Linked DNA regions of Homo sapiens. The protein of the gene in region 3 interacts with the protein of the main gene of each other region in a pairwise test. Each region holds a gene or a part of one and is shown on either strand. Other genes may lie near its edges. The genes, in order: CNOT11, TRIML2, MEOX1, MORF4L1, RAD52, EIF4EBP1 and RBM5.

Region 1 (3,929 bases), on a different chromosome or scaffold from region 3:
TGAAAAAAATTTTTTTTACATAAAATATCTTTCTCCCCAAAAACACATAAAATAAAATAAAAATATGTTTTAAAAAAGAATTGAGGTGGCTCTTAACTAGATAATTAGAATCGCTGGTGGTAATCACTGGCGAAATACGCGTACGTTTCTGTAGGTTTAGGGACCGGGCAAGTCTGGGAAATGCCACCTGGTGGTTCTCAGCCCAGACTACACCTCAGACTCACCTGAAGAGGTGGGGTTTATTAATATCTCAATCAGCATCTCTGGGGGTGGAACTAGGTATTTGTAACGTCTCCCCGTGGGTTTCTAATGCACAGCTAAGTGCCCAGGATAAGTGCCCTAGGGCAATCTAAGTAAAACGTGGCACAGCAAACAATTTTGTAAATGAATATTAACTGGAGACATGTTCTCGAAATCATGTTAAGAGAAAAAACCATGTACAAAAAAGCTCATAGTGCAGTATGATTCCATTTCTGCAATGAGTGTAAGACTAGAAATTAACCGTGGTTATGTGAAATGTGTGGTATATTTGCATTTACTAAATTAAAAAAAATGTTTCTGAGACAGAGCGCCCGGGCTGCAATGCAGTGGTGATCACAGCTCACTGCAGCCTGGGACTCCCGGGCTCAAGCGACCCTCCCGCCTAGGACTCTCAAAGTGCTGGGATTACAGGCACGCGCCACCACGCCCGGCCTGCATTTACAATACTTTTTACGACGAATACTTACGGATGTTATATTAAGAAAATAGTTAACATCTGAGGTGCATTCTTCCAAATAATAACGTAGACAGCACTTACTGGGACCGTCTGGCACCAGGAACCGTCCTGGGGACCGCCAAAGGGCGGCTTAACCTCGCAGCTGCGCAGACGCATGCAGTCCCCGGGCTCTCCTGCCGCGGGACCTCGGCAGACCTAACCCTGAACGCCACCAGCCCGACCTCGCCCCGCCCCTCCCCTCCCTTCCCGGGCCCCGCCCCCGCTTCCTGCCAATTCGCCCCGCCTACCCCGCGTCTCCGCATCCTCTTCCTGGCTTCGCTCCATCAGCCTCGCTTTCGCTGGGCGCTGTCCCTCTCCGCGGCGGTCTGGTTTCCCCGACGTGTTTTGTTTGCGACGCTGTCGTGTAACAGCGCGCTTTACGGCCGCGGGGACGGAGCGAGCCGGCGCCAGGGCCCCTCGGGCCGGGAAGAGGGGAAGGGGAGCGAGGTTGATGCCCGGCGGAGGGGCGAGCGCGGCGTCTGGCCGGCTTCTCACCGCCGCGGAGCAAAGAGGGTCCCGGGAAGCGGCAGGGTCGGCGTCCAGGAGCGGCTTCGGGGGCTCCGGCGGCGGCAGAGGCGGAGCAAGCGGCCCCGGGTCCGGGAGCGGAGGCCCGGGGGGCCCCGCGGGCAGGATGAGCTTGACCCCGAAGGAGCTCTCGAGCCTGCTGAGCATCATATCGGAGGAGGCGGGCGGCGGCAGCACCTTCGAGGGCCTGTCCACCGCCTTCCACCACTACTTCAGCAAGGCCGACCACTTCCGCCTGGGCTCGGTGCTCGTCATGCTGCTCCAGCAGCCCGACCTGCTGCCTAGCGCGGCGCAGCGCCTCACGGCGCTCTACCTGCTCTGGGAGATGTACCGCACCGAGCCGCTGGCCGCCAACCCCTTCGCCGCCAGCTTCGCGCACCTGCTCAACCCCGCGCCGCCCGCCCGCGGCGGCCAGGAACCCGACCGCCCTCCGCTCTCAGGTACCTCCTGAAGCCAGCTGTGCCGTGTGGATAGCGTTAGATTCCGCAGCTTTCCACCTGCGCTGCTGGGAACTCACCTGAAAGGGAAATTAACTATCCCTGTGAAATGATCATCCTCTTTTTCCGCCTCTCTCTGCGTTCCCACGCCCCTCACTCCTCCCCGCCTTAACTCTAAAGAATGGAGAGGTGGTAGCTTAATTGCAAGTTCGTGACACCGAAAATGATTTCTCTATACACCCCATCACATCATACAGCTCAGTGTAGGTCTTGACATGTTTAGTGTCTCAAATACGGTTCGTTCTTCGAAAACCCGTCTGTGGTGTGTGAAGTTAAAACCAATGATAAGACTGGATCTGTCCCCGGTTTTTAGTCTCAAAGGAGTACGTGGAAGTCAGTATTAAGAAGCTGAAGAAGTTGGTGGGCGGAAATACACATGAAACACCTTAAAGACTTTGCAGCCGCCTTTCTTAGCCTGTTAGGGATGGGGGCAGAGGATAGAAAGTCTCAAATTGATGATCTCGCGTTTGGAAACACATGACTTACTGGACATTATGTAAAGTGCATACGTGGTATACATTATGTAAAATGTATTTACTATTGTGTGGCATTGGTGAGATCAAACTAGTAGGTTAGATGCGAGGCTGCATTTTTTTTTGTTTTTAAGCTCAAGCAGGTGATGCTTTATGTGGATTTGCTTTGCGAGAAGACTTGCAGTCAGAAAACAAGAAAAATGGCATGTTGACAACGGGACCTGAAGGATTTAGGAACCAGTGTAGTGGAGGAAGCACACAGAGATAGGAAACAGCTTGATCTTACATTCCTTAACCAGTATAGGTAGGGCCTGCTATACAGTGAGTCAAGGCTAGGCAGTAGATTTTGAAGTAACACCAGGAGTTTGTTTTTATGGTACAGGAGGGCCGCGTTTCTAGTTAGTGTTCCTGCCGGGCATCCCATCAGGATCTTCTGATAGGTGTCCTGTAGTGCCCTTATCTAAGAAGGGCAACCCTTTGTATTGGCCTGAGATGCCTTTAGGGTACAGGTACTTAACCTGCTTCTAAGAAGCTTGTGACTGCCCAGAAAGTGAATGTAACACAGGTTTGTGGTCAAAACTCACCACCTAGGCCTGGCTAGGTGGCTCACGCCTATAATCCCAGCACTTTTGGAGGCCGAAGTGGTGGAGGTTGGGGGGTGGGAATTGCTTGAGGCCAGGAGTTTGAAACCATCCTGGGCAACATAGTAAGATCCTGTCTTTACAAAGCAATAAAAAATTTGCTGGGCATGGGGTGGCTAACACCTGTAGCCCCAGCTGCTCAGGAGTTTGAGGCAGGAGGATCACTTGAGCCTAGGAGTTTGAGGCTGCAGTGAGTTAGGGTGACAGCTTCTAAACACACACACACACACAGACAACCACCACCCTAGGGTGCTTGTATTAGAGGATTGGGACACTGGGATTTAGATCAGAGGGCCCTTTGAATTCTGAAGAACAAGTGAGGCAAAGAAACCGTGACTTATATAATGTCATTCTCATGTACAGTGAATCTAAACCCACACCTAGTCCGTAGACCGCATTATACACACAGATTTGCCATAGGTGGGATGGCAGTCACCAGAGAAGGAATCCATGGATGGATTATATTTAACCATTTTGTGCCTCAGATTCCTCATCTGTAAAATGCAAATAGTAACAATTCCCAGCTGGTAGAGTTGTTACAAAGAATAAAAGTACCTGTGAGTGGGCTGGGCGCGGTGGCTCACGCCTGTAATCCCAGCACTTTGGGAGGCCGAGGCGGGCGGATCACAAGGTCAGGAGATCGAGACCATCTTGGCTAACACGGTGAAACCCCGTCTCTACTAAAAATACAAAAAATTAGCCGGGCGCGGTGGCGGGCGCCTGTAGTCCCAGCTACTTGGGAGGCTGAGGCAGGAGAATGGCGTGAACCTGGGAGGCGGAGCTTGCAGTGAGCCAAGATTGTGCCACTGCAATCCGGCCTGGGCTAAAGAGCGGGACTCCGTCTCAAAAAAAAAAAAAGTACCTGTGAGTGTTACCCACTATTATACCATTATTAAAGTAGGTAGGGATGGTGTGTAGATAACATAGAAGAGAAAATATCAGTGCCTACACTCCACTCCCAGAGCTGCTGATATTGTATGTTTAGGGTAAGACATTTAGTGGGTATGTCTTCAGAATGCTTTTCAGATGACTCTGA
Region 2 (4,617 bases), on a different chromosome or scaffold from region 3:
TGTAACAGTAAATAAGGGTTTAGCACACTTTTTTGTAATGTTTTTAGAATTATCTTAAAATATTGACTCTTCTAGAATTAATAATTTAATTATTAATAAATATTTATTTAATAGTAAAACAGGCTTTAATAAGTATTTATTTAAGCATTTAATACTCTAAAACAGGCTTTAAGAGACTTCAAAACCTGACAATATGCTTGATGTTTATTTTCCATTTGATTCAAAGATTACAAAGTTTTCTTGTCAAGATGAGTAAGCTCAAGAGTTATGAAAGCTCAAGGGATGGTGAGAGTAAATGACAGAGTATCTGACAACAAGTATGTGTGAGTATCTTCACAGACGTTGGCCGTACCCAGGCTTAGAAGAGAAAGGAAGATTGGATTAGAAAAATAAGAGAAGTAAAGGAGGATGGACTGGCTGAGGAGGGGAGGGGGCACAGGAATAAATGTGGTCTATTTGAAGAAAGCTGGGGAATTGGGTTTTGGAAAAGAGAGTGGGTGTAGGTAATCATCTGAGATAAGAGAAAGGGTGTATGGCCAGGCGCGGTGGCCAGAACTTTTGGAGGCCAAGGAGGGTGGGTCACCTGAGGTCAGGAGTTTGAGACCAGCCTGGCCAACATGGTGAAACCCCATCTCCACTAAAAATACAAAAATTAGCTGGGTGTGGTGGGCGCCTATAATCCCAGCTACTCGGGAGGCTGAAGTGGGAAAATTGCTTGAACCTGGGAGGCGGAGGCTGCAGTGAGCCGAGATCGCTCCACCGCACTCCAGCCTAGGCAACAGAGTGAGACTCTCATCTAAAAAAAAAAAAAAAGAAAGAAAAAAGAAAAAGAGAAACGGTGTATTGAGATTCCATAAGGTAGAACCAGGTTCTGAAAGATCAGATAAGCAAAGCAGAAGAATTCTCATTATCCTGTCAGCAGCATAAAGAAAAAAACTCCCTGGTTTGATTAGCAGGGGATTGACTGACTGATGCAATAAAAACCCTCGGGGACAAAACTATAAAACTTAGAAAGCTGTGAAGAGTTCCTCCTCACTGAAGCCAAATATCAAGTATGAATTATCTGGGATTGTTCCCTGACCTCCCATCTGTGACAGATTCCATAGGCAGTTATCCCTACTCTTGGTTTTTCTTTCCACAGATACTGGAATGAACACTTCTCCAGCAAACGTTCTAGAAACTAACAAGTCAGGCATTATTTTCTACTAAGGAACAAACACAGTCTTGAGTGTTAGCTCGAAGGCTTCTTTCCTGTGAAATTGTCAATATACACTAGATTCATTAAGAAAGAAAACCCCAAACCTTAAGGAGCTAGAGGTGTTAGGCACTGTACATGGCACTGGAGATAAAACAAGATATTTATCCAACCAAGGTCAGGGCTATTAAGCATTTTCTGGGAGTCCATTAAAAATGTAAATTACGGACCCCACCGTAGATTTCTGGAATCAGAGACCCTGTGAAGAGGCTTGCGTTTTAATAAACTCAGGTGGTTCTAATGAGATTAATTGTGTGAATATGATAAGAAACTTCACAGACGCCTTCCTGATGGTGTGAGGGCGGGGCTGAGGGAGGAATTGAACAGATAAAATCTCTTCAGTCTCCACTGTTCCAGCTTTTTCCCTAAAGGAAATACCTTGGTTCGGTGTGGTGACTCATTCCTGTAATCCCAGTACTTTGGGAGGCTGAAGCAGGCAGATTGCTTGAGCCCAGGAGTTCAAGACCAGCCTGGGAAAAATACTGAAACCCCGTCTCTACAAAAAATACAAAAATTAGCCGGGTGTGGTCGTGCAGCGCCTGTAATCCCAGCTACTCAGGAGGTCAAGGTGGGAGAATCACTTGAGCCTGGGAGCTCGAGGCTGTAGTGAGCCGAGATTGCGCCACTGCATTCCAGCCTGGGTGACAGAGCAAGACCCTGTCTCAAAAAAAAAAAAAAAAAAAAAAAAGGAAATACCCAGGATTGCTACAAAGAAAGTAAGTGAGATTTTCTCTATAGATCATTTTCTTAATAATTGTTTCTTTAGATTTCTAAACTTGATCTTAGAATCTATGTGTGTGTGTGTGTATCTGTGTGTTATCAGGAAAAAGCCTGAAGAAAAATATTAGGAAAAACAAAATAAGGGTAGACAACATGCTGGGGACTTAATTCGTCAATTTTCCTTTGCTGTTTCTGTAAAAATATTTAGTCTCTGTCCCTCTCTCATTACACCTTCAATTTTTACTGGTTTAACATAAAATATCGTTTACAATATTTATTGTGCATCGAGTATGTCAGATGTAGACACAGGGCATCTCAAGGACTTAGTTTCTTATGGATGGAGAGTGACCCACAAGTAAACTTGTTCATAGAAAGATAAAATCTTTTCGCTACTAAGAAAATAAAATAAGGAGATGAGTAGTGGGAAGGTATTTCAAATTGAGTAGTGATGGAAAGGTCTCTCTTGGGAAGACATTTGAGCTGAGAACTGAAGAGAAGAAAGAAGAGGCAGCTGGAATTGCAAAAATATGAGAGAAGAGCTCTGTTGGCCACGGAAGGGGGAAGGGCTGTGATGAATTAGAGGCAGCTAGATTGACAGTGATGGGGGAAAGCTATAGAGAGATCAGAAGAAGGCAGGAGGCCAGATTGTATAGGACGGGGTTATTACCCACTTCGATCTTACTCTAATGCCATAGAAAGTGACCACAAACCTGCTCACTTGGTTTTGGTTTTAAAATAGTATTCTGGTGGTTGAGCAGAGAGGAGCTGGAGATGGACGAGGAGGGCAGGACAGAATATAAATTTGGAAAACAATAGTTGAATTGGTGAAAGGAAGGCTTAAACTGTGGCTCTAAAGGAATGAGTTTGGGGGAAGAGAGCCACTGGGTTGAGATCCTGAGCGGCTTTAGATATGTTAATTTTGAGTGCTCCTTAGACATTCTATTGCAAAAATGTTGGGAATTGGGCAGGAGATTGAAATCGGAGAATGGAACTTAAATCTTCAGAAACGAGTAAGATTACCTAGGGAGAGACCAGGACTGGGAGACCAGAACTCAACCTTGAAGCACCCCAAGATTGAGAGGTTCAGAGGATGTGGGACCAGAAAAGGCCACGGAGAACAAGACCAGACAAGTTAGAGGAATGTCAGCTGCAGACAGATGAGAGAAGAAAACATTCTAGGAAGAAGGGTGTGGTCAGCTATGTTAACTGCTGCTGAGAGCTCAAGGAAAAATTTGAGTTGGTGAATTTCTTTGTTTTGGTGACTCAGTGGAGTCATCTCGGACATGTTCAGGGACCTAAGACACGGGAAACCAGCAGGGATTTCAAAGACCTAAGCAGAAGAAAGGATGAGAGCATCAAAAACAAGGAAGGAGGGAGAAAGTATTTGCAACTCACACAATTTACAGGAACTTGGATCTATAGCTCTCTCTTAAAATTGACCCCTCCCTCCAAAAAGGCCAAACCTGATGGAATAAACTGAGAGAGAGGCTTGAACATAGACTTCACAGCAAAAGAAGTGAAAATGGTTTTTTAGCATATGAAAATAAAAGGCTTAGACATATTAATAATATAACAGATGGAAGTTGAAAATATATGAATACACTATTTCTCACCCAGCCAGTGGGCAATGATCCAAAAGTTTAACATCTTTTTAATTTGTTGCTTGGAGTGCAAAATTGTACAACTTTTGTGCTTGGGAAACTGACAAAACATATCAAAATTATGGATGCATTCATTCACAGTCCTATTTGTGGGGAATATGCCTTTTCAGGCCAAGATTCTCAACTTTTTGGAATCAGTACTCCTTTGCACTCATTATTGACGAAGATCCCAATAAGCTTTTGTTTATGAGCGTTAATATCTATGTTTACTGTATTAGAAATTTAAAACTGCATTTTATAGTTATTCATTTAAAATAATAAAAACAAGCCAGGCACGGTGGGTCACACCTGTAATCCCAGCACTGAGGCTGAGGCGGGCAGATAACCTGAGGTCAGGAGTTCCAGATCAGTGTGGCCAACACGGTGAAACCCCGTCTCTACTAAAAATACAAAAAATTAGCTGGGTGTGGTTTCACGCGCCTGTAGTCCCAGCTACTCGGGAGGCTGAGGCAGGAGAGTCGGTTGAACCCGGGAGGCGGAGGTTGCAGTGAGCTGAGATCGTGCCACTGTGCTCCAGCCTGGGCGACAGAGATTCGGTCTCAAAAATAAATAAATAAGTTAATAAAATAATAAAAACAAAAACATTTTTCTGAGAAAAAAGTTTTCGAGCTAAGTGGCTTTTTTAATAGAGAAAGCCAGAATTACAAAGGACTTAAGAAGGACATTGGGGCCCTTCTTCTTGCCAAAGATGGGCACAACGTCGACAAAGCGCCGGTGGTACCGCACCCGCGGCTCAGCCCGGCCTGTCTTCTCGCTTGGCCACCTTAGCAAGAGTCTGACCTGTCACTTTCCCAGCGCGGGCCGGGGAACCACGGACTTGGCCTCCCGGGCAGTCGGGGCCTCCCACTTCGCCCTGGTCCAGGGTGGCCTCGCCCTGCAGGGACGCGCCTGCCAGGAGCACGATAGATCTTCCGGGGCGAAGCCCTCCAGTGGCGCTGCCTGAGCCGCGACCTGGGAGACCGTCTCCTGGCCGGTCACCTG
Region 3 (3,895 bases):
GAAAAGGGCCAGCTCTGGAGGTCTGCAGGGGCTGTGAGTCCTGTCTCTCAGGCAGAAAGGATTCTCTGCCTCTGAGTTATCCCCCCTCCCTGGGCCCAAGTGCCCGTGATTTATTCAAGCCAGAGAAATAGGTGAGCGGGCAGGAATCCTGAGTCCCTAGCATGGGAGAGTGGCGGAGCAGAGCTGAGGTGACCCCTGGGCTGACCTTCTTACAGCTCACGGGCTCATTGGATCTTTCCCTCTTCGATGTTGGTCAGGATCCTGCTGCCTCAGCAGAAACGGACTTTCTCCAGAGTTTCCGACTATACCTGATCAGGGGCCTGAGCAGGCCCAGGCGTGGGATTTGTGCTGGAGCCTCTGAGTTCAGATGGTGGCCGAGGCCTGGGTCCTGCTTTGGGCTCTGAGCTTTCTTTGCTTGTCAGAAGAGGAGGTCAGGAGCTCTAATCAGGAGGCCGGGGATGCCCAGAGGGATACTGGCTGAGTGTGGAGTTGCTGTCTCCCCTCCCACGCTGGCCACTCTGGACCATAAAACTTCTTCCTCACTAGGGGTTCTGGACATGGACTCGGGACAAGAGGAGCTGCTGCAGCGGTGCACCCCTCAAACCACACCCCACCCAGCACTGCCACAACCCTAAGCCAGTAGCATCGTCAGAGTCAGGCAGGCCCGGCTGACAGCAGGGGGCAAAGACTTCAGCAGAGCTCAGGACACTTTGGCCTGTTTTTGAACGTGGGAAACCTGATGCAGCCAGCCAGCATCAGGGGAGGACTTTAAAGAGAGAGGGGTGCTCATATGTGGGTTTGGGAAAACTGGAGCCAGGGGTTACCAAGTGTTGGCTGTGGACTCTACATCTCTGATATCATTTAGTCTCACAGCTACCCACCTTATGAAGTAGGTACTGTTACCCTCATTTCTCAGAAGAGACTCAGGGAGGGTTAGGACTCACCCACGTCCACACAGCCAGGAAGTTGTGGATCAGGGACCTGAACCAGGGCTACCTTGTTAATTCGCTTGACCTTAGTCTCTGACCACCCTTCCTCCTATTACTGTACCGTGGCCCAGCAAGAAGGTGAGCATGGGCATGAGGTCACTTGTATGGGACTTGGCATCACTCTGGCGACCCAGGTGACACTTATTGGGGTTGTCCATTTATTTCATTCTCATCTCTACTATTGCTTTTTTTTTTTTTTTTTTTTTTTTGAGACGGAGTCTCACTCTGTCGCCCAGGCTGGAGTGCAGTGGTGTGATCTCGGCTCACTGCAAGCTGTGCCTCCCAGGTTCACGCCATTTTCCTGCCTCAGCCTCCCAAGTAGCTGGGACTACTGGCGCCTGCCACCACGCTTGGCTAATTTTTTTATATTTTTAGTAGAGATGGCATTTCACCGTGTTAGCCAGGATGGTCTCGATCTTCTGACATCGTGATTCACCAGCCTCAGCCTCCCAAAGTGCTGGGATTACAGGTGTGAGCCACCGTGCCCAGCCTACCATTGCCTTTTTTTTTTTTTTTTGAGACGGAATCTCACTCTGTCTCCCCAGCTGGAGTGCAGTGGCACGATCTTGGCTCACAGCAACCTCTACCTCCCTGGTTCAAGCGATTTTCCTGCCTCAGCCTCCTGATTAGCTGGGACTACAGGTGTGAGCCAACACGCCCAGCTAATTTTTGTATTTTTAGTAGAGACAGGGTTTCATCATGTTGGTCAGGCTGGTCTCAAACTCCTGACCTCAAGTGATCCACCCACCTTGGCCTCCCAAATAGCTGGGATTACAGGCGTGAGCCACCGCATCCAGCCCATGCCTCTTTTCTCCTTTCCTCTGTCAAACAGCTCCCTTCTTTAGAGATTCACTCCTAAAACTGCCTCCACTTTTTTTTTTTTTTTTTGAGACAGAGTCTGGCTCTGTCACCCAGGCTGGAGTGCAATGGTGTGATCCAGCTCACTGCAACCTCCACTTCCCAGGTTCAAGCGATTCTCCTGCCTCAGCCTCCTGAGTAGCTGGGACTGTAGGCGCATGCCACCACGCCCAGCTAATTTTTGTATTTTTAGTAGAAATGGGATTTCACCATTTTGGCCAGGATGGTTTTGATTTCTTGAGCTCATGATCCGCCCACCTCGGCCTCCCAAAGTGCTGGGATTACAGGCGTGAGCCACCGCACCCGGCCAACTGCCTCCACTTTTTATGTCTGTACTTGTTGGTGTAAGATAGGAAATCAGGGATCTGCTTGTGGCTAGAAACAACTTCCTGTCTCAGTGGAAAAGCTCTACCAGCCGACAGGACCCTGAGCTAGGAAAGCTCTGGGGTCAGGCACACATCTGGGTGCTGCTTTCACTAAAGGGGTTTTCAACTGAAGGGTCTGTGCCACAGTTTGAACCTTGTCCCTTGTTCCTGTCCCCGTACAGTCCTGTACAGTCCCTATAAGGGCAGAATTGTGCTTCCCTCCCCAATTCCTATGTTGAAGCCCTAACCCCAGTACCTTAGAGTGTGTCTGTATTTGGACATAGGGCCTTTAAAGAAGGGATTAAGTTAAAATGAGGCTGTTAGGGTGGGTCCCAATCCAATCTGCCTGATATGCTTATAAGAAGGGGAGATTAGGGGCTCATGCCTGTAATCCCAGCACTTTGGGAGGCCAAGGCGGGCGGATCACCTGAGGTCAGGAGTTCGAGACCAGCCTGGCCAACATGGTAAAACCCCTGTCTACTAAAAATGCAAAAATTAGCCAGGTGTGGTGGCACACGCCTGTAATCCCAGCTACTTGGGAGACTGAGGCAAGAGAATCACTTGAACCTGGGAGGCAGAGATTGCAGTGAGCCGTGATCACGCCATTGTGCTCTAGCCAGAGCAACAGCAAGACTCTTGTCTCAAAAAAAAAGAAAAAGGAAAAATTAAAAATATGGTCAGGTGTAGTGGTTCACACCTGTAATCCTAGCACTTTGGAAGGCCGAGGCAGGAGGATTGTTTGAGGCCAAGAGTTCAAGACCAATCTGGCCAACATAGCGAGACCCCTGTCTCTATATTTTATTCTAATAATAAATAATTTTTTTGGAAAATTAAAAATATAATTACTACATAATATAGCAATTTCCCTTCTAGGTATACACTCAAAAGAATTGAAAATACACTCTCCAGCCGGGTGCAGTGACTCACACCTGTAATCCCAGTGCTTTGGGAGGCTGAGGCCAGTGGATCACGAGGTCAGGAGATTGAGACCATCCTGGCTAACACAGTGAAACCCCGTCTCTACTAAAAATACAAAAAATTAGCCAGACGTGGTGGTGGGCGCCTGTAGTCCCAGCTACTCGGGAGGCTGAGGTAGGAGAATGGCATGAACCCGGGAGGCGGAGCTTGCAGTGAGCTGAGATCGCGCCACTGCACTCTAGCCTGGGTGACAGAGTGAGACTCCGTCTCAAAAAAGAAAAAGAAAAAGAAAATACACTCTCCAGGAGGTATTTGCACACTCATGTTCATTGCAGCATTATTCACAACTGCCAAGAGGTGGAAGCAACCTACATGTTCATCAACAGATGAATGGATAAAGAAATTTGGTGGCCGGGCACAGTGGCTCACGCCTGTAGTCCCAGCACTTTGGGAGGCTGAGGCAGGCAGATCACAAGGTCAAGAAATTGAGACTATCCTGGCCAACATGGTGAAACCCCGTCTCTATTAAAAATACAAAAATTAGCTGGGCGTGGTGGCGTGTGCCTGTAGTCCCAGCTACTTGGGAGGCTGAGGCAGGAGAATCACTTGAATACGGGAGGCGGAGGTTGCAGTGAGCCGAGATCGCGCCACTGCACTCCAGCCTGGCAACAGAGTGAGACTCCGTCTCAAAAAAAAAAAAAAGAAGAAAGAAATTTGGTATATCCATACAATGGAATGTTATTGTCTTCAGAAAGAAGGAGGCCA
Region 4 (3,895 bases), on a different chromosome or scaffold from region 3:
CTATGAAGACAAAAATATGCTTAAATATAAGCACTCTCTTTTTTAAAGAAAAATCATACCAGGCAAGTTTTTATACAAAGATCAGGTAACAGTAACAGTATTTCAAATTAGGAAAGATACTATTCAGCACTTAAAACATGGATAATGTGGCTGAGAAACTACAGACAGTTCCCAACTTACAATGGTTTGGACTTAATTTTCCAACTCTCTGCTGGGTTTATTGCGATGTAACCCCATTCTAAGTTATGGAGCATCTATATATTTAAACAGCCAAATGAGACTCTACTAGACAGAACAGCACAGCTTTTAAAAATGTCAATCTGTCACACACACATAACAGACACGAATGTGCCTTTGTGGTACTACCAAGTCATCATTTACTGTTATGCATACTATTTGCTAGATCTAGTCTAAAGCATTAAAATAATTATCTTTTCGTCCTCTCATCAGCATTGTCAAATACAAACTATTATTCCATTAAATGCAAAAACAGAAGCACAAAAAGGCTAAGAAACTTGTCCAAACTCACAAATAATAAGTGATACAGCCATGCTTGAATCTTCGCAGTTTAGCTGTAACTGCATAACCCTCCAAAGGATTCAAATCAGAATTCAAACTATATCCACATACTGTATATGACTGATAGGTCTCTTAAGTCTCATAATCCTCAAGCAGTCCCTAATCATCTCCCCCAACTATCCCTAACCCTACCTATGCCATTTGTTCAAATAGCTTCATTTGTCCTATAAAATTCTCAATTATAGAGTTCAACGATTGACAAACATGTCACTCCATTAAACATCCTATTTCCTGCAAACTAACAATAGATCCAGGCGCTTAGTAAGATTCAGGTTCTTTTCAGGGTCATGAATACCTTGCAGGTGGTGGTGTGTGCTTTCTATGGCCTACCATTAGCAATGACAGTAAGACATATGCTTCTTCACCTTTATGAATTTTCAGAACGAGTTCCTGCCCTAGCAATCTCCAAAAATGAGTTATTTCCACCTTTATCATTATAACCTCATAAAATTTATATGTGAACTTTTATTCTTCTAACTTACTCTTTCTGGTAGTAGTTCTAAAGTGTTCAGCCTCTAAATTAAAATATTATTTTATCAGTCATACCTTAATAATTCAAGTCAATATAACATTTTCCTTTAAAAACTTTTTTTGCTAGCAAGAATGTATCATATAGCTTAACAATCTGGGTAGCTTTTCAAGTTACCTGTTTTTGCCTGGTAATTAAGTCCCAGTCATCAACAAGCCACGGTTTTAGCTCTTCAGGAATCTTTACTTTAACTTCAACTCTGTTCATGAATGTTTCCTCCTAAACAGAAACAGGAGGAGTATTAAAAACCTAACCTTTCTTGCTAAATACCAAACATGGAGGGGAGCTGACTTTTAGAGGCACTAGGGATAAATCTTAAAGTAGCCAAGCATACAGCTGTACTGTCATTTTTTAAAATCATTAATAAAAACGACCATACGCGGTTCGCTGTTGGGAGAAAAGAATCTGACCTGAACTATAGTCTATTTAGTGCATTTTCTTGTAAAGGTAAAAATTCTTCAGTAAGGTTCCTCTTGTTCAGGAAATGAAACACCCTGACTTGATACATTTTAACTTAGTATTTTCTTATTTACCATGGATATCAAAACTATTCCAAACACAACCATCTTAAAGGTACATCTTTAACTCCTAAAAATAAATACGTAACACCAAAGAAATAGTCTTGTAGGTGAACATGAAGCTTACACAACAAATGATCAATTGGGTAGGTAAATCTGGAGCTACAGGTGAAATAAAGATATACAGAAATTTATCCTTTACCCCCAAAAGAGAAAATTTTTAATTTCAGGTATTAACCATGTAAGCAAATCTTGTAGATAATCAAAGCTCCCATGGTTATGTCATGTAACTGAGACTAAAAATCCTAACATGCTATTCATAAACACAAGAAAAACTCACATTTTCAACAGTAGGATCTACCCGGGCCCTTTTCTTCCGAGGAGGCTGAGGGGTCTCACTGGTACTGCCACCATCTCCATTTCCAGGTGCTGTAAATGTTGGCGGGGAGGGGTCTCATTTAGCTAATTTAACAAACTCTATAAGGAAAATAGTCTCTTGACACATTAACCCTTTTCATTATTTCTCCATTACACAGCTGTTACCTCAATCTAAGTTAAAGAATCATATTCCTACCAAAAATACAACTTTCATGAAGAGCTCTACCGAACATTTAGTATAGACAACATTTAGTATCACCATCTTCCATTTATTTATAAATGTTATCTTCTCAGTGGGAGACATTAAGACTAAAGCAGATGAAAATAAATGCTCACAAGTTTCTCCTTGGCAAAAAGAGGTCTCTACCACCATGTACCTATTTTATAACACTGCTGTGAGACTCCTATTTGAGATAATCAATAAACATAAGCTTACTCCAAAATTTCATAGCTTTCAAAATAAAAACGTCAATGTCATAGAGGTAACATAAATTAACGTTAAGAAAGTTAATATTCTTACTTTTCTGTTTGTTCTTTTTCGTTTTCCTAAAAGGAGAGAAAAAAAAGAAAAATAATTATTTCCAGTAAAACTGCCTCTGTTTCAACTCCCTTTATCAGGGTTAAGTTCACAGAGAAATACTAACTTGGATAAAGGATCAGGTGGTAAATATGTGTCCTACTCAGACACAAGGATTTTTATTGATAGTTGGTTAAATTCCCATCTCTCTCCACATAATAGAAAAAAATAAACCAAGCCAGGCGCAGTGGCACATGCCTGTAATCCCAGCATTTTGGGAGGTGAAGAGGGGGTGGATCTCTAGAGCTCAAAATTCCAGACCAGCCTGGGCAACATGGCAAATCCTGTTCTCTATAAAAAATACAAAAATTAACTGGGCATACTGGCAAACGCCTATAGTCCCAGCTACTTGGGAAGCTGAGGTGAGAGGATTGCTTGAGCCCAGGAGGCCAAGGCTGCAGTGAGCCTTGATTGCACCACTGCACTCCAGTCTTGGTGACAGAGACCCTGTCTCAAAGACAAAAAAAAAAGAAAAGCAAACCAAGAACACTTTAGTAAACAACTTCGTTCTTCCAGGGTTATATTAATATATGTTATAGTATATACTACATTATTAGGCCCACCAAAAAAAAAAGGTGTCAAAGGTTAAAATTTTTTTCCAATTATTTTTGTTCCCCAAAATATTTTTAGATTTGTGTAATTTTTTTGTTTTAAGTCTCCTCATCTTGATTATCATCTCTAACAGCAACTTACCTCACGTCACTTATATACTGTCAAATGGTAAATTGCTAATTTTGCTTTATTTATTTATTTTGAGATGGAGTCTTGCTCTGTCTGTTGGGTGATCTCGGCTCACTGCAACCTCCTCCTCCCGGGTTCAAGCGATTCTCCTGCCTCAGCCTTCCAAGTAGCTGGGACCATAGGCACCCACCACCACTCCCAGCTCATTTTTGTATTTTAAGAGACGGGATTTCACCATGTTGGCCAGGCTGGTCTCAAACTCCTGACCTCAAGTGATTCGCATACCTCGGCCTTCCAAAATGCTATTACAGGCGTGTGCCACCATGCCTGGCCTAATTTTGCTTTTTTACATTATTATTTCTAGACCACAAAGGAAACAGTTTATAGAGCCCATGATTATGGATTACTTTCGATGGAAAGATACTATAACACCTGGATTTTTTACTTTTCTGTAGCTTTAAATAATACTTATAAATGTTATTAATTAAATATATTCATTTAATTTAGGTCTTAAGGTTTGACAATTCAAATTAACTTATGTTTGGATATAAACACAAAAATCTGTGTATAGGTTTTCTCTTGTCTGTTAGTTTTGTAAAAATCTGTTGGACTGTATTTCTCGGTCAAAGTCAA
Region 5 (3,895 bases), on a different chromosome or scaffold from region 3:
GGCTTTCGCTATGTTGCCCAGGCTGGTCTCAAATCCCTGGGCTCAAGCAGTCCTTCCACCTGGGCCTCCCAAAGTGCTGGGGTTACACGAATGAGCCACCCCGCCTAGCCAAACTTTCAACCATAAATATGTATTAGGATTAAAACCAGTGGGGAAATAGAATAGAAATATGAGTTCAGATAAAGAAAGAACAATGTAAAATTTCTAATGATTAAAAAAAAGCTTGTTCATTGTATTTCTTCAAATAAATGATAGATCTTATCCTCTATAGTATTTAGAGTCCACTGGAATATTTAACAAGATTCAACAGATTTACGGTAAGTGCTCACTTAACACCTTAAATAACTGTGACTTGAAGTGAAACAACTTATTAACAAAACATATTTTTGTTTTCATCAATGTTATAACAAAAGGACCTGCTTTGCCTAAAGTTGAGTTTCCAAACACTTATCAGTGATGGTAAAATTATTGTATTTTAAAATGTCAGATTTTACCATATGCCAAAAAATACATCCTTTGCAACAATTTTTATATATGGTGAAAACTTTTAGGTGTCAGCTTGAACATGTGCAAGAGAACAGTTTTTCCATTCTTTTAGGGAGCACATGAGCAAGAGTATTTGAATTCCACCACTCTAGGGAACGCTGGCTGAGACACAACTCTGGAGCCTGGGTCCCCGTCCAGCTACCTACTTCCCTACCTGCTCACCTTCTCCTACCACCCACTGATCCTTCCGGGCAGCAGGTCTACTCCATCCCCTCACCTTCAGCTGGACCCTCACAAATGCACAGACTCCCACGTAGAACTTGCCATTGTTGAGGTCAACAAAATCTAGGAGTGGGAAAGAGAGCAAGTTGAAGAGGACACTGACCGCTGGGCCACAACCATTCCTCCTGCTGGCAGCTGAGTCCACCTACCTTACCTCCTCACCCACAGCAGACTTTCAGCAGGAGCTGGACAGTGCAGAAGTCCCCACTGCTGGAGAGCATACTCACCCACATTCTGCTGCGTGATGGAGTGTGCCCAGCCATTGTAACCAAACATCTCATTGGCCAGATTAATTACCCGATGACCCTCAATGTAGCACACCTAGAAAAACAAATGTTTTTAAGGAAAAGCTGTGTTAATTCCTTACCACACTTAAATGTGAATCAAAATTGACATAATTTATTCCTCATCTACTTTTTTCGATAAACTGTCCTTAAACATTCTTCTCGGGAGGCTGAGGTGGGAGGATCACTTGAGCCCAGGAGCTCAAGGCTGCAGTAAGCTAGGATCGTGCCACTGCACTCCAGCCTAAGTGACAGAGTGAGAACCAGTCTGTTAAAAAAAATTTTTTTTTCAAGAAAATTCTCAATGAATTTATTTCAAAAATCTTCTAGATGGAGCCCGCGAGAACGAATGGTCTGTTGGGAGGAGGAACTCACCCAGCAGTTGCTAAAATTCAGTTTGCAAAAAGTACAAATCTGTTTGACATATTTTATGGAAGACCAAAAATATACACAGAAGTTAAAATTAGAAGCAAATGATATGCAATTATTATGTGTCAATCATAAGTTCTTTAAAAAGTGTTTAATTAAAAAAAAAAAGCAAATGGCAAAAGGAACATTTTTTTTTTAATGGTGTAAAGGCTGGGCATGGTGGCCCACACCTGTAATCCCAGCACTTTGGGAGGCCGAGGTGGGAGGATCACTTGAGCCCAGCAGTTCGAGATCAGCCTGGGCAACATGGCGAGATGTCGTCTCTACAGAACATTAAAAAATTAACCAGGTGTGGTGGCGTGTGCCTGTAGTCCCAGCTAGTCAGGAAGCTGAGGCAGGAGGATCGCTTGAGCCTGGGAGGTGGAGGCTGCAGTGAGCTGAGATGACACCACTGGTCGGACTCCAGCCTAGGTGACAGAGCAAGACCCTGTCTTTAAAAATAAAAAAAAAAAAAGATGATGTAAAAATCTTAAGACGGCGGTTATGCGAGTGTCAAGACCATGCCCAGGCCCCTTCGGATGAGAATGAAGTCTGGAACCCATCCCCTCCCAGGGGCACTGGGAGACCTCCAGGAACAGTTAACAGCAGACTTCCGAATCCCTGAGGACCCAGAGAGGGAACTGGCAAGACCATCGGAGTCTGCGGTATGGATGCCTGCTTTCCAGGCACATGAATTCTCCTACCTTCTGGCCTCCGCCAGCCATGCGGCTACTTATGTATTCTGGGCCCAGCCTCTGCCTCAGGGCCTTCTGGATGGCCTGGTACTCTTCTGCTGTGTACTGGCACTGCAACCCCAAAAAAGAAAATTAAATTCACACTTCCACCATTCCTCACATCATTGAGTCTCCATCCTTTATGGAGACTTTATACTCTTAAAAAGACCCCCCAGAACCTTTGTTTATGTGGGTTCTATGTATCCTATTAGGAATCAAAACTGAGAAACTTTTAAGGCATGCATGCCATTAGGCATCATAGCAGTGACATCACCACATATCATGCACTCTCTGAAAACTCTACCATTCACTCATGAGACAATGAGTGTGAAAGAGGCAAATAGTATTATTATGAAGATAATTTTGACCTTCTGGACTCTGAAAGATCTTCAGAAACCCCAGGGTTTTTGAGAACTGCATTTTGAGAACTGCTGCCTTAGCTGCTGCTACCATCCTTATAAATGTTTCTGAAGCTTAGGAAGCTAAAATGTTCTGCCTCCAGATCTGTAAATGACGTCAGCACAGGAAGCAAGTACGGAAAGAGCACGGGGGTAGGAAGCCTTGCTTCCATTTGTCCTTTCCAGAGATTGACGCCTTCTCCAATACAACAATTTCCCATCCTGCACAAACAGAAACACACTACTGCTTGCTGATTTGGGTTTTGTCCCCCTTGCCCTGCTCAGATGAGATGAATACTCACAACTCTCTGCTAAAGACAAAGATGGAGTTTGGGTGGACAAAGCAAGAAACTCTTTTCTGTGCACACAATGTCCCTACAAGGAATAGGACCCCCAGTAACTTTCCATGCCTCCAAGAAAGACAACTGGAGCCAGGCGCGGTGGCTCATGCCTGTAATTCCAGCATTTAGGAGGCCGAGGCAGGCAGATCACGAGGTCAGGAGTTCAAGACTACCCTGGCCAACATGGTGAAACCACATCTCTACTAAAAATACAAAAAAATTAAGCCCGGGCGTGGTGGCTCACGCCTGTAATCCAAACACTTTGGGAGGCCGAGGCAGGCGGATCACCTGAGGTCAGGAGTTCGAGACCAGCCTGGCCAACATGGTTAAACCCCATCTCTACTAAAAATATAAAAATTAGCTGGCCATGGTGGTGCATGCCTGTTATCCCAGCTACTTGGGAGGCTGAGGCAGGAGAATTGCTTGAATCCAGAGGGTGGAAGTTGCAGTGAGCTGAGATCGCACCACTGCACTGCAGCCTGGGTGACAAAGCAAGACTCAGTCTCGAAAAAAAAAAGAAATAGAACTGGGTGGCATGCACACAGGGGCAATAGGAAATAGGGAGATTTTCACAGTTTCATTTTGAATTTGATGTCATACAAATATGTTATCTATCCCCCCCCACAAAAAATTTAAAATCTAAATCTAATCCCCAGTACTATCAGTCTTTTGATAGCTAACATTCCAAAATGCCCTCCAGAGTTCACAAGACTCCCAAAAAATGCATCTAAAGGAAAAACCAATAACAAATAGCTCACACATGTACTATGTAAACGTACTAGGTACTGCCCCCGCACGCACCGCGTCAACGTACTAGGTACTGCTCACACACGTACTAGGTAAACGTACTAGGTACTGCTCACACACGTACTAGGTAAACGTACTAGGTACTGCTCACACATGTACTACGATGCTCTACAAACTGCCTTGCCCTAACTTTACTCACTTCACCTCATTCTTTC
Region 6 (3,895 bases), on a different chromosome or scaffold from region 3:
CAAGCTAGACTACTGAGTGATCAGAATGTTGGGAGACCAAGAGGATAGAGGGAACTCCCAGGCTTCCAGCTGTCCCCAGCAATGCCCCAGATGTATGGGTAAGACCATCTTGGAGCTTCCACCCCAGGACAGTCCAGCTGTACACTGTATGCAGCCATATGAGTAAGCTCAGCAAGATCTACAAAGAACCCAACGAACCCAAAAGATGGAGAACAATAACAAATCGCTGCTGTTTAGTTACTGTTTGGGGATGGCTTGTTATATAGCAATAGCTAACTGATACAACCATTTTCACCAAGTGTCCCTGCACACCTAAGAAGCCCTGATCCTCTGGGCCTAGTATCTGAGCTCTCTTAATGAGCTTTCATGGGCATAACCATCAGATTACATGGAGCCCTTTGCTGTGCATACCCAAATGTCAGTGAGCAGCAGTTACTTACTCTTGCCTTGTCAGCAATGCTGGATGCAAACAGGTAAATAAACAGCATCAGTCACAGTGTCTGAGACCCCGGCCCCAATACTGGCTTGTTCAGTGTAAGAAAAAGTTGCCAGATGCAGTGGCTCACATCTGTAATCCCAATGCTTTGGGAGGTTGAGGCAGGAGGATTGCCTGAGGCCAGGAGTTCAAGACCAGCCTGGGCAACATAGACCTCATCTCTACAAAAAATAAAAATTAGCCAGGTGTGGTAGCATGTGCCTGTGGTCCCAGCTACTCGGGAAGCTGAGGCAGGAAGATTGCTTGAGCCCAGGAGCTCAAAGTTACAGTGAGTGGTGATCGCGCCACTGTACTTCAGCCCATAGACACTCCAGCCTGGGCCACAGAGGTGAGGCCCTATCTGTTAAAAGTTTTTTGTTTTTGCTTTTTAAAAAAAAGAAAAAAAGTCACATCCACTCCCTGTTCGGTAATATTGGGACAAGAAATACCAGCAATACTGTTTAATACAAATGTTCCTTGACTTAAAATGAAGTATGTCCCAATAAATCCACCATACATAGAAAATATCTTAAGTCAAAAATGCATTTAGGGCCAGGTGCAGTGGCTCACGCCTGTAATTCCAGCACTTTGGGAGGCTGAGGCGGGCAGATCACTTGAGGTCAGGAGTTTGAGACCAGCCTGGCCAACATGGTGAAACCCCATCTCTACTAAAAATACAAATTAGCTGGGTGTGGTGGCACACGCCTATAATCCCAGCTACTCAAGAGGCTGAGGCAGGAGAATGGCTTGAACCTGGGAGGCAGAGGCTGTAGTGAGCAGAGATTGCACCACTGCACTCCAGCCTGGGCGATAGAGCAACACTCCAACTCAAAAAAAAAAAAAAAAAAAAAGTATTTAGTACACCTAACCTACTGAACATTATAGCTTAGCCTTCCCTACCTTAAATGTGCTCAGAACACTTACATTAGCCTACAGTTGGACAAAACCACCTGGCAACACAGCACACTATAGACTCTATAGTGGGCTGTCCAATCTTCTGGCTTCCCTGGGCCACACTGGAAGAAGAATTGTCTTGGACTACACATAAAATACACTAACACTGGCTGGGTGTGGTGGCTCACGCCTGTAATCCCAACACTTTGGGAGGACGAGGTGGGCGGATCACCTGAGCTTGGGAGTTCGAGACCAGCCTGACCAATATAGAGAAACACCATTTCTACTAAAAATACAAAATTAGCTGGGTGTGGTTGCGCGTGCCTGTAATCCCAGCTACTCAGGAGGCTGAGGCAGGAGAATCACTTGAACCTGGGAGGCAGAGGTTGCAGTGAGCCGAGATTGTGCCATTGCACTCCAGCTGAGCTTAAAAAAAAAAAAAAAAGAAAGAAATTTCATAATGTTTTAAGGAAGTTTACGGACTTGTATTGGGCCTCATTCAAAGCTGTCCAGAGTGCATGTGGCCTGAGGGTCTCGGGTTGGACAAGCTTGTGACTGGCCATTTGTCCTCATGTTTGTGGGGCTAAATGGGAGCTGCAGCTCACTGTCCCTGCTGAGCATCTCGAGAGCATGTACCTCGTATCGCTGGCCCAGAAACAGATCAAAATTCACAATTCAATGTACAATTTCTAGGCTGGGCGTGGTGGCGCACACCTGTAATCCCAGCTACTTGAGAGACTGAGGTGGGAGGATTGCTTGAGCCTGAGAGGCGGAGGTTGCAGTGAGCCGATATCATGCCAATGCACTCTAATGTAGGTAATAGAACAAGACTCTGCCTTTTTTTTTTTTTTTGAGATGGAGTCTTGCTCTGTCTCCCAGGCTGGAGTGCAGTGGCGTGATCTCGGCTCACTGCAACCTCTGTCTCCCGGGTTCAAGCGATTCTTCTGCCTCAGCCTCCTGAGTAGCTGGGAGTACAGGTGTGTGCCACCACACCTGGCTAATTTTTTGTACTTTTAGTAGAGACGGGGTTTCACCATGTTAGCCAGGATGGTCTCTATCTCTTGACCTCGTGATCCACCCACCTCAGCCTCCCAAAGTGCTGGGATTACAGGCATGAGCCACCGTGTCCGGCCAAGAATCTGTCTTAAAACAATTTTTAAAAGTACAATTCCTACTGAACACATATCACTTTCATACCATCGTAAAGTCAAAAATTGTAGTCACACCATCATAATCGGGGACTATCTGTATGAGGATAAGTAGGAGGGTTCAGAGAAGGTTATTCTCTGGCTGGTCCAGTGGCTCACGCCTGTAATCCCAGTGTTTTGGGAGGCTGAGGTGGTGGATCTCTTGAGCCCAGGAGTTCCAGACCAGCCTGGGCAACATGACAAAACTCTGTCACTACTAAAAATTTAAAGATTAGCCAGGCGTGGTGGTGTGTGCCTGTAGTCCCAGCTACTGGAGAGGCTGAGGCAAAAGGATCACCTGAGCTCAGGGGGTTGAGACTGCAGTGAGGCATGATCGTGCCACTGTACTCCAACCTGCAACAGAGTAAGACTTTGTCTCAAAAAACAAACAAACAAAAAACAGACAACATCATCAAAACAGAGAAAGTTAGTTTCTGCCCCTGGGACATTCTGAGATAAACACTTATACCCTGCAACTGAAAGGACAGAAAAGGAAATTTAAACGTCATCATTAAGCCAGCGGAGACTCAGGCCTGACAGTAAGAAAACTAGGTTATCCTGACCAGGCATGGTAGCTCACGCCTGTAATCCCAGCATTTTGGGAGGTCGAGGCGGGTGGATCACAAGGTCAGGAGATTGAGACCATCCTGGCCAACATGGTAAACCCCGTCTCTACTAAAAATACAAAAATTAGCTGGGTGTGGTGGTGCGTGCCTGTAATCCCAGCTACTCAGGAGGCGAGGCAGGAGAGTCACTTGAACCAGGGAGGTGGAGGTTGCAGTGAGCTGAGATCATGCCACTGCACTCCAGCCTGGGCGACAGAGCAAGACTCAGTCTCAAAAATAAATAAATAAATAAAATAAGAAAACTAGGTTATCCTGAGGGGAACGCTTTCATTCCAGCATTCTTTTCAACTCTTCACCTTCCAGACACTAGACCTGGCATTAGGTCATGTGGATACAAAGATGAGTAAGACTGCTCAGAAAAAATTTCCTGGCTAACCTAGGGAACAAACACGTAAACAAAAACGTGTGATTCATTCGCTATGAATCATAATGGAGAGAGACCCCAGGCATGGGTCTAAGTCAGACCAGAAAGAAACAGGTTTTTCATGGGTTTGTTGGCACAGGCAAGAATCTATGTGCACAACTGAACATTTTTTTTTTTTAAAACTCACCTTAGAAAGCAATGTTCCTTTTTTTCAATATTGCTGTGCCTTCCCAGGCCAAGCACAGTGGAGCATGCCTCTAATCCCAGAACTTTGGGAGGTCAAGGCGGGTGGATTACTTGAGCTCAGGAGTTTGAGGCCAGCCTGGGCAACATGGCGAAACCTCATCTC
Region 7 (3,696 bases), on a different chromosome or scaffold from region 3:
GCCCACCCTTCCTTTCATATCACCTGCAATAACCTCACGTCCTGCTGTCCCTTGGGATTAATTTGAAGCGCACTTCTTTGCCCATGAAGGCTTCCCTGGCCAGGCCAAACTAGACCACTCTCTCCATAACAAAATCCAGCGTATTTAAGCAGCAAGCTCTGGCATTGCTGTGAGAGAGTCTCGGCAGTGTGCTTCTGCCTTGTGCACCCTTATGATGAAGGGACAATGTGAGGCTCACAAGGCACACAGAGGCTGGGTCTAGGCTACATGAACTACAATGGTCAGATGACAAGGGTATGACAAATCCTCCTACCCTGCCCCTGGGATCTGGAACTAAATGCTACAAATAAAAGCTAAAGGCAATTATCCCAATATCCTCTTCCTTGTGGCACAGTTTCCCATTCACCTCTCTCTCCCTTAGCTCCAAGGCTTCCAGCTCCTGCTCGCTCAGCCTGGATCGTCGATAGATGTCCATGTTTTGCTACACAAAAGATTTGAAAGACACAGTAAGGACTCAGACCATCTTAATTTGAAATGTCCTAACATTAGTAACATCTACTGTACTTTAAGAGCCAAAGCCCAAACAATACACAATCACATAAAAACTATAGTTTGATGTGTGTGGAGCTGCCAGACTCCGTCCACTGTCATCGGGAACAGCTTTCTGTAAGGCCATCATTAGATGGCAGGTATTTTTGGAACCGTCAGGACTGTTAGGGCACTCAAATTGTCTCACTGCCTCCCCTCGCCCCCTCAGATCAGCTCAGAAGCATGGCCACCTTGTGAAGGTCTGAGAGTTGCTGGTGCCTGACTAGGGCATCTTTGTTCGGGAACTGGCGCCGGCAGAGCAGACAGGCCATCTTCTTCCAGTCAGCTAGCTTCTCTTCCTCACTCTCAAGTCTCTCCACCAGCTCCTCCTCATTGTCACTGTCACCACTGTAAGCAGCAACCAGACCCCTCTGGAGACAAAAGGAGGACAGGTCACTGGAAATGTACAATAGGAAGATGGCGGTGGCTATGTACCTGGATAAAGTAATGCCTCATCCGAAATGTTAACAAATCCCCATTACTGCATGTCACACTTTAGTAATGAATCACATTTTGTCAACTGCGTGGAGCAGTCAGGTCCTTGAGTGCTAGGCCTGACAGCCTCCTGGTACCAACCTTCTTGGAGCCTAAGAAATGGATTCCTGGGTGACTACCTTTTTCTATTTCTTTGGAGAAGGAGTCTCGCTCTGTTGCCCAGGCTGGAGTGCAGTGGCGTAATCTCAGCTCACTGCAACCTCCACCTCCCAGGTTCAAGTGATTCAAGTGTCTCAGCCTCCCAAGTAGCTGGGATTACAGGCGCTTGTCACCACCCCTGGCTAATCTTTTGCATTTTTAGTAGAGATGGGGTTTCACCACATTGGTCAGGCTGATCTCGAACTCCTGACCTCAAATGATCCGCCTGCCTTGGCCTCCCAAAGTGCTGGGATTACAGGTGTGAGCCACTGTGCCAAGACTGTTTTTGTTTTTTTTTTTTTTAAATGAGACAGGGTCTTGCTCACTGCCCAGGCTGGAGTGCAATGGTATGATCCCCAAAAAGTGCAGTGGCTCACTGCAGCCTTGATCTCCTGGGCTCAAGCAATTCTCTTACCTTAGCATCCCAAGTAGCTAGGAGTACAGATGCAAGCCACCACACCCAACTAATTTGTTTCTAATTTTCAGTAGAGACGAAGTCTTGCAATGTTGCCTAGACTGAGTGACTATTTTCAAACCACTGACCACAAATAAAAATCCCAAATACAACATATCAGAATAATGGCCCACCCAGACCAGTATCTATCTAGTAAAACAAGCTTTTTCTTGTCTTAATTTTCTCTTTCCAGACCATTAAAACTCTCCACTCACAGATGCAATGAAACTTAATTAACTGAGCTTAGGAATTGAAGCTTCTTTCATCACTCCATCTCATCTGCTCTCACAGAAAACAAAGCCCCGACATGGAATCTATGTGCAGAAACTGCTCCAATACCCATCAACAGTGATCACATTCAGTTTTAAGTAGGAATCACATTAGCCAAGATGCAGTTGAGCCTTAAAGTGAGACACAAACCACAGATAGGGTCTTTAAAACACTGGTGGTACTCCCTTACTTTGAGGGGATTCTCCTCATCTCCATTTCGCACCAATTCTGGGATGAGCTGCTGCCTTTCAGCTAAGGCTCCCTGGGAAACAGAGGACAAGCCATGAGACTCAAGTTTTAGGTAAGTTCCCATCATGACATACTGGCCATTCCTGCTATTACCTTCTTCTCAAAGAGAGCAAAGCCAGCGTCTGCTGCAGCAGATTCTCTCCTTTCTTCTTCCCTCAAGGAATTGACAGGCTGAAAGCTATTTTTAAAGTTTTCTTTCTGCTTATTCAAACTCTTAGCCCAGCGTTCCATGTCTTTGGCAATCTAATGTCAAACAACAAACACCAACAAAAAAATATTTAATCCCCTGTGCCATGAGAATGAGCCATTAAGGATCTTATCTCAACTATATGCCCTGTAACAAACCCCTTTTACTCTTACTTCCACCTACAAATATTTCCATTAGATGTTATCACATATAACCAAAGTCATTCATAAATACTGCTTGAAAAGCTTTGAGATTTCCAGGGCTTTTTTCCCTAAGTACACAGGCTGACAGTCAAGATATGGTAACAATAACAAATTGCAAAATGCTCTAAGAACTTAGTATGAATAAAATGTGAAGCCCAATTTTTAAGAATCCAAATAATACTGACATAAATGCTACAACCCCAAAACTAAGAGTTCAGCCCAATACCTCAATGAAAGAAATATGGGTCATGTTCTAACCTGCTGGGCTGTTTTGCTCTTGGGTTTCTCCTTCTTCTCTTTCCCCTCTTTTGCAGGAGGCAGGCCCGACTGCTGGTGGGAGCTAGACTCTGCAGCTGGCACGTAGGTCTCTTTTTCCCCATCCCAGTAAAGGTACTGCTGGGTCAAGGAATTATAGTAGTACTAGAAAACAACAAACAAAAAACAATTAATGCAGACTTTCTGCTATGTCAGTCGATTACATATTTTGTCAAAAAAAAGATAAAGTATGTTGTGGACTAGTGATATTTCCTGCCCAGAAAAGACCCTGGGCACACCTTGGTATAAGTAAAGGTGATGAACCACCTAGCAAAGAGGTGTGACACTGCTAGAGTAAAAATAGAATATGATTTCTTTAAAAAGTTTAGTTCCCAGCCGGGAGCAGTGGCTCATGCCCGTAATCCTAGCACTTTGGGAGGTGGTGGTGGGCAGATCACCCAAGGTCAGGAGTTCAAGACCAGCCTGGCCAACATGGTGATAACTCATCTCTACTAAAAATACAAAAATTAGCTGGGCATGATGGCACACCTGTAATCCCAGCTACTCAGGAGGCTGAGGCAAGAGAACTGCTTGAACCTGGGAGATGGAGGAGGTGGCAGTGAGCCAAGATCATGCCACTGCACTCCAGTCTGGGCAACAGAGTAAGACTCCATCTCAAAAAAAATGATAATAAAAATTTAAAAAGTCTAGTTCCCATTAATTTAATCCCTGGGCCTACCTAGAGGGCACCCAAAGAGCAATTTGTCTCACTCTGTTCCACAGACTATTTACATAAACCAGGCAGCCAGAACAGGTGGGCGTGTCATGGAGTTCAGACATCTGCCATGACAACAGCT

Evidence for each region.
Region 1: the proteins of MEOX1 (region 3) and CNOT11 interact in binary tests that used the Homo sapiens proteins (3 or more experiments, as listed by UniProt).
Region 2: the proteins of MEOX1 (region 3) and TRIML2 interact in binary tests that used the Homo sapiens proteins (3 or more experiments, as listed by UniProt).
Region 4: the proteins of MEOX1 (region 3) and MORF4L1 interact in binary tests that used the Homo sapiens proteins (3 or more experiments, as listed by UniProt).
Region 5: the proteins of MEOX1 (region 3) and RAD52 interact in binary tests that used the Homo sapiens proteins (3 or more experiments, as listed by UniProt).
Region 6: the proteins of MEOX1 (region 3) and EIF4EBP1 interact in binary tests that used the Homo sapiens proteins (3 or more experiments, as listed by UniProt).
Region 7: the proteins of MEOX1 (region 3) and RBM5 interact in binary tests that used the Homo sapiens proteins (3 or more experiments, as listed by UniProt).

Annotation. Positions count from the first base shown.
Region 1 is NC_000002.12:101,251,757-101,255,685, forward strand, and holds the start of CNOT11 (CCR4-NOT transcription complex subunit 11), read left to right. Parts: upstream 1-1,129; 5' UTR 1,130-1,208; coding exon 1,209-1,722; intron 1,723-3,929. UniProt on the Homo sapiens protein: Component of the CCR4-NOT complex which is one of the major cellular mRNA deadenylases and is linked to various cellular processes including bulk mRNA degradation, miRNA-mediated repression, translational repression during translational initiation and general transcription regulation.
Region 2 is NC_000004.12:188,106,597-188,111,213, reverse strand, and holds the start of TRIML2 (probable E3 ubiquitin-protein ligase TRIML2), read left to right. Parts: upstream 1-1,610; 5' UTR 1,611-1,971; intron 1,972-4,617.
Region 3 is NC_000017.11:43,651,652-43,655,546, forward strand, and holds part of MEOX1 (homeobox protein MOX-1), read right to left. Parts: intron 1-3,895. UniProt on the Homo sapiens protein: Mesodermal transcription factor that plays a key role in somitogenesis and is specifically required for sclerotome development. Required for maintenance of the sclerotome polarity and formation of the cranio-cervical joints.
Region 4 is NC_000015.10:78,889,644-78,893,538, reverse strand, and holds part of MORF4L1 (mortality factor 4-like protein 1), read right to left. Parts: intron 2,551-3,895; coding exon 2,525-2,550; intron 2,056-2,524; coding exon 1,967-2,055; intron 1,328-1,966; coding exon 1,226-1,327; intron 1-1,225. UniProt on the Homo sapiens protein: Component of the NuA4 histone acetyltransferase (HAT) complex which is involved in transcriptional activation of select genes principally by acetylation of nucleosomal histones H4 and H2A.
Region 5 is NC_000012.12:929,056-932,950, forward strand, and holds part of RAD52 (DNA repair protein RAD52 homolog), read right to left. Parts: exon of another isoform or gene 3,786-3,895; intron 3,751-3,785; exon of another isoform or gene 2,267-3,750; coding exon 2,165-2,266; intron 1,090-2,164; coding exon 996-1,089; intron 832-995; coding exon 764-831; exon of another isoform or gene 709-763; intron 1-708. UniProt on the Homo sapiens protein: Involved in double-stranded break repair. Plays a central role in genetic recombination and DNA repair by promoting the annealing of complementary single-stranded DNA and by stimulation of the RAD51 recombinase.
Region 6 is NC_000008.11:38,036,834-38,040,728, reverse strand, and holds part of EIF4EBP1 (eukaryotic translation initiation factor 4E-binding protein 1), read right to left. Parts: intron 1-3,895. UniProt on the Homo sapiens protein: Repressor of translation initiation that regulates EIF4E activity by preventing its assembly into the eIF4F complex: hypophosphorylated form competes with EIF4G1/EIF4G3 and strongly binds to EIF4E, leading to repress translation.
Region 7 is NC_000003.12:50,112,691-50,116,386, reverse strand, and holds part of RBM5 (RNA-binding protein 5), read right to left. Parts: intron 3,005-3,696; coding exon 2,843-3,004; intron 2,438-2,842; coding exon 2,288-2,437; intron 2,208-2,287; coding exon 2,136-2,207; intron 960-2,135; coding exon 780-959; intron 482-779; coding exon 407-481; intron 366-406; exon of another isoform or gene 1-365. UniProt on the Homo sapiens protein: Component of the spliceosome A complex. Binds to ssRNA containing the consensus sequence 5'-AGGUAA-3'. Regulates alternative splicing of a number of mRNAs.